Linked DNA regions of Homo sapiens: region 2 is linked to region 1. Evidence: fine-mapped expression QTL. Tissue or cell type: whole blood. Region 1 holds a variant in brackets; the other region holds the start of a gene. All regions are shown on one strand. Distances are from middle to middle.

Region 1 (2,756 bases):
CAAGTTCGGGAGCCTGCTGCCCATCCATCCTGTCACGTCGGGCTAGGAGGGGCCAAGCCGAAGAGCCACCCAGGCCACAGTTCCTGTGCCTGCCTTCCCCACCCCAGCAGTGGCCCCTCCCCATCCCCTCCCTCTGTTCGTCCCGTTTGATGAGAGGCTGTTTACTGGGGTGGGGTGGCGAGATGGGCTTGAGGGGGCTCAGAGCATAAGGCTTCAGGGCCCAAGTTGGGAGAAGTGACCAAAGTGTAGCCAGTTTTCTGAGTTCCCGTGTGCTAGACTGGCCAGAAGAGAGGGTCTGGGGCCTGGTCACTCGGCCACTCTCTCCTGTTTCTGGCCTCTTCTCCCTTCACTCCCGTCCAGTCTGGTTTTGAGAGCAGGGGCTGTTCTGCAGCACCGCAGGGAAGGGAGGAGAGATACCTGCTGCTTCCATTGCTTTTCCCTTCCTGGAGTCGATGCCTTTCTAAGGGTTGGAGCTGCTCCTTGCAGGGGCGGGTCAGTTTCCCAGGCCATGCCGGGGTGGCCATCTATGGTAGGGCTGGAAGCTGAGGCTGGCCGCCAGCTGTGGGCTGGGGTGGGGTGGGTGGGGTCGGGTGGTGGAGAGGCCTTAGCTGTCCTGGCTGGTGCCCCTCCCAGGCTCCTTTTCACCCTGCCCCCTGGGCCTGAGGCCCCCTGTGTCCAAGCCTCCCCCTGGCTCTTCAGTTCTCTAGCCCTTGGCTCTGCTGGGTTTCCTGACTGTAGCCACATCTCTCCCGCTCCCTAAGGGTAACCTAGCCAATGGAAGCTGCCCTTTGGGTAGGTGCTGGGCTCCTGGGAGGGCCCAGATGATGGGGTGAGGCATGTCTTTCCAGAACTTTCCCTGGCAGGGAGGGGATGGCAGAAACTCAGGGAGGGGCTTGGGGCCCATTGTATCTGGAGAGCCTGGATTCCTCTTGGCAGTCTTAGGCCCGGCCACTTCTGCTACCTTTGCGCTGCTGTGAGCCTCACCCTGGGCCCCTGGGCCCTGCTTCTCTGCTCCCCTGGGTGATGGGTGGGCCCAGAAGGTGGCAGTCCCACACCTTGTCCTCCCACCTCCCTGAACTGTCCATTGCTTTTATAGGGTGAGGTAAG[A/T]GACAGCCTCCCAAGCCCAGGCTTTGGCACTCAGAATGGGCCCAGTGGGGGCTGGGCAGGCCCATTGAGGGCCACCGCCGAGGTTTCTCCTAGGGCTGTTCCTGGGCCTGGCTCTTACAGGCTCGTCCCCCAGGCCTGCCCTTCTCCACTGCCCCCTCCTGTGTCTGGGTCCACACACCCTTCAGGAAGGGGGAGCACTGAGAAGCACAGCACAGGGGCTCAGCCTGGGATCCGGTGATGGTCTGGGCAGAGGCTGGGTCAGGAGTCCCAAAGGTCAGTGACAGTTTCTCAGAAGAGGCCCAGCGTCCACCTCTCTCCCAGGGCCAGACAGCCCTTCCTGGCTCCCCCATCCCCCTATGGGCTCCCAGCCCCTTGCACCCTCATTGCTGTTCAGATTAAAGCCTCTGTTTTGCACCTGTCACTTGTGTGAGGTATGTCTTTTCATGTCACATGTTTAACCCATTTCTGCATGACTGACCTCCATCAGGTCCCCTTCTCTCAGGCCACAGTGTCTGAGACGAGCTGTTTCAATTTGGGTTGAGCCTTTCCTGGGTTTAAATCCTAGCTGTCTGCAGTCCCAGCTGCAAGGTTGTAAGTTACTGAAGCCCCTGAGCCCCAGCTTCCTCAATTCACAAAATGGGGACAGTCACAGGGTGACTGCCAGCAGTGGACAGCAGATGTGAAGTCCTCAGCTCAGGGCCTGGCACATAGCATATCCCGGGTGGTCACTGCAGCTGTGCTTGGTGAAGGGGGCCCCTCTGGACTCCCAACTTAGCCCCAAGCTGGCCAGGGAGCCTTTGGATGGGCTTTGACAGTGGAACATGCACCTGTGGTTTGTGAGGGGGTGGCCCTCTATTCTCCCTCCTCTGCCCCTCCTGTCCCTGCTGGGCTGGAGTTGAGGGTCTCTGGGGCTGCTGTGCCCCAGACTTCCTTAAGACACTCTTGCTCAGAGAACAAGGGTCCTTGACCTTTCTCTTGGCCTTAGAGGCCTTGCATGGACTGGAAAGCCTCAGCCCCTCATCACCTTGCGCTGCCTCAGGCACACCCGAGTTCAAACTGAGCAGCTGCTGCTTACTCACCAGGAAGTAGAGGGCCCTCATGGTTGACTTCTCTCTGAGCCTCAGCTTCCTGATCTGAAAAATGGGCATAATGACGTTCCTATCATTGGTCTTGAGGATTCCTTCATTTCACAAATAGTGGCTGCATGTTCCTCATGACTGCAGTGCACCCAGATATGACAGTGTTAGGTAGCCGGTGGATTATGGAGAAAATAACGTCAATTAGAGAAGGCGTTGATGGGGGCAGGGCAGGGGGTTACTTGCTCTAAAAGGTCCTGTGAGCTGAGACCCTGAGGACAAGAAAGAGCCGCTGTGGAGAGCTCAGGCCTGGGCCTGGAGGGCTAGGGTTGGGTATAGGGGCCAGACTTTTAGGCCGGGGCCTTGCGGGCTCTGCTGAGTTTGGACAGTGTTCTATGGGAAGGTGCTGGAAGGTTTTGTTGGGGAGAAGGGGAGATAGGACCATTTGGGAGGTTGTAGTTGTGATTGGGCACAGGGATAGTGGCCTGGGTGAGGGTTCAGAGTGGGATGGTGGGAAGTGGTCCAATTTAGGCTGCATTTGGTGTCGCTAACAGGAAGGGAGTTATGACAGGG
Region 2 (2,500 bases), 37 kb before region 1:
AATGCTCCAGGACGTGGGTTTAATCCCGCTTCTGACCTTGCGCCCCAATCTCCTGCTCTGCCAAACCTGGGACGCCCGCCTGACCCCACCCCATCAGCTGGAGGCCGGGTCGAACAGCGGCCGCAGGACGCGGTCTCCGTTCCCGGACGCAACCGCACGGCCCGCCCAGGCCGTCCAGGGCCCTCAGGCCCGGGATCCGCCGCACTCACCACGGTCCTGGCAGCGAAGGCTAACATCTTCGCTGCCCGTCCGCGGACACGCAGTCCGCTCCGCCCCACACACCGGGCAAAGTCCGCGCCGCCGCCGCCGCGGCTGGGGTCGGTGGGTCCTTGCTAGAGCCTTCGGGCCAAGGTCGCTGAGTTACAGCCGCCAGCCGGTAGAGGCAGCCCCGCGCCCACCCTCTGGGCCGAGCGGGCTGCGGGAAGGCACCCGGGGAGGAGGACTCGCGAGGCGGGGCCTGGGCCGGTAGCGGGCCCCGGGCGGGCAACGGTGCCCGGGAGGTTGGCTGTGGGGCGGGGACGGGGCATCGATGGGGCGGAGTCTCCTTGAGGAGGGACAGGAGGGGCGGGGACGGAGGGGCGGGGCGTCGCCCGGTAGCGGGTCGCAGTAGGCTGGCTGCGAGTCGGGGGCGGGACCACGGCGGGCGGGGACAGAGGGGCAGGGCCGAGGGCGAGTCATTGAGACCTGTGGAGGAGGAAGGAGGAGGTCACCGTCCAGCTGTCTCTCCCCTGTCCCCACATGTCTTCTAAGCTGTTGGAGGTAGTGGTGTGCACCTTTCCAACTCCGTCTGGTGTCCTTGAGCCTAACTCTTAGAGTGATAGGAAAACACAACCATGTTGACCGGGGAATGTCCTCTAATATTCCTTGGGTTAGGGTCAGTACCACCCACAAAGATGACAGGTGGTACTCCGGGACAGGAGACTGTCCCGGAAAAACATGGCTGAGCACAACCCAAACTTGACGCCCCGCACAATCGTGGCAGTCGCGGCGCCCGACGTTCGGGCGGCCGTGAGCGGTCCTAGCGCTTGGCGGCCGTTGGCGCGCATGCGCCCCGCGCGCCCCGCACTGACATGGCCGTCGCCCGGTTCCGCGCGTCCGCCGCGCGCCGGCCGTTAATAGGCTTGCTCCCTGAGCGCCCCGCACCGACATGGCGGCCGTCTTCGCTGTGGTGACTTTAACTCTCGGTTTTCGGTTATAGCCGGCCGGCGCTCACTTGTCTTCAGGAAGCTCGGAGCCTTTGGTGGAGCCGGGGAGAGGAAGGGTGGGTGCAAGAGTGAAAGGCGAGAGGGGACTGCAAGCATCCGGGTCGGCTCCTGGCCGGAGCAAGATGGCTGAGGGCGAGCGGCAGCCGCCGCCAGGTAAGGCCGGCGGGGCCAGGCCGGGCCGGGGTCGGGTAGGGTGGGGGCGGTGCCAGGTGTGGGAGGCTCAGGAGGGCGAGAGTCATGACACGGAGGAACTGGAGGGGCAAAAGCTGAGGGGCCCCGAGGAGGGACTGAGTTGAATGGCCTTAGGGGAGAGGTGGGTGGTGGGGCGCCGCTGGGGAGGGAACCAGGGGCTGCAAAGGGGTGGTGATTGGGGCGCAACTCTGGGTTTTGTGGGAGTCCAGGCTGCCCGAATGCTGGGTGGGCAGCGCCGTGGTCATAAGGGGGCCTTTTGCATCTCTGGGCAGCGCGTGCTTAAGTAAGCTGCTGACTCGGTGGGGAAGCTGCCAGGGAGGGGGGCGAAAGTGATTCCGGAGGCTGCCGTCTTTATTAGTCGCTGCTTAGGGGATGGGGTGGTGCTCCGTGGGCCTGCGCCCGCCTCGCCTCCAGTTTCGGCCTCCGCGTCCTGCTCACCCCTCATCCTCCTACTCTCTGGTTCCAGTGCCTGAGAATTTATTGAGGGAAACTGCCCGTGGTGTCTAAATCCCTAATTTTAAAAGGCTGGTTGTGCAAGGAGGTTAGTCTCTCCGGCATCTCCTTCGGTAACTCTTATTTACCTTGTAGCCTCTTTTTAGTTCATCTTAAATAACTGGGATGGAGGTGCTACGGAAGGATCTTAGAGACCCTTTTTGTGCAGAAGGAGAAGGCTGTTTGCCGACCTACCTTGAACTAAGAAGGACTGGCCATAGATAACTTTTACATTCCCGACAGAGGCAAATAGGTTGGCCGACCAAACACAGCTAATGTTTTGAAAGCATTTGATATTCTTGCTATCCTGTCTCCAATGTTGGGGTCCCTGGGAAGGTCTCAGGAGGGAGAAATGTTGAAAATCAGAAAAGGCATCCCCTCCATGCCCCACAAAAGAGGTGAACAAAGAGCTGGGTTCCGTTTCTTAGGACATTCAAAACCAGACATTTATTTTGTACAAAACCTCTGGGTGTGTGCCCTTAGAACAAGGATGTCCAGGCCAGGCGCGGTGGCTCATGCCCGTAATCCCAGCACTTTGGGAGGCCGAGGCGGGCTGATCACCTGAGGTCGGGAGTTCGAGACCAGCCTGACCAACATGGAGAAACTCCGTC

Evidence for each region. PIP is the estimated chance that this variant, and not a neighbour inherited with it, causes the effect.
Region 2: PTPA starts here. The variant in region 1 is fine-mapped to the expression of PTPA in whole blood (TOPMed, PIP 0.98).

The regions. Positions count from the first base shown.
Region 1 is chr9:129,147,419-129,150,174 of GRCh38, forward strand. It overlaps PTPA (protein phosphatase 2 phosphatase activator), which reads left to right. Exons shown (of 10, transcript NM_178000.3): 10 at 1-1,528. The coding sequence ends at 46. Among named protein-coding and RNA genes, the nearest start is that of IER5L, 29 kb to the right of the region's middle. RefSeq lists enhancers at 1,006-1,105, 1,140-1,640. The variant A/T (reference allele first, on the strand shown) is at 1,108.
Region 2 is chr9:129,110,274-129,112,773 of GRCh38, forward strand. PTPA (protein phosphatase 2 phosphatase activator) reads left to right here and starts at 1,142. Exons shown (of 10, transcript NM_178000.3): 1 at 1,142-1,358. The coding sequence starts at 1,328. CRAT (carnitine O-acetyltransferase) reads right to left here and starts at 520. Exons shown (of 14, transcript NM_000755.5): 1 at 210-520. The coding sequence starts at 236. RefSeq lists silencers at 276-715, 1,406-1,455 and enhancers at 1,126-1,405, 1,338-1,878.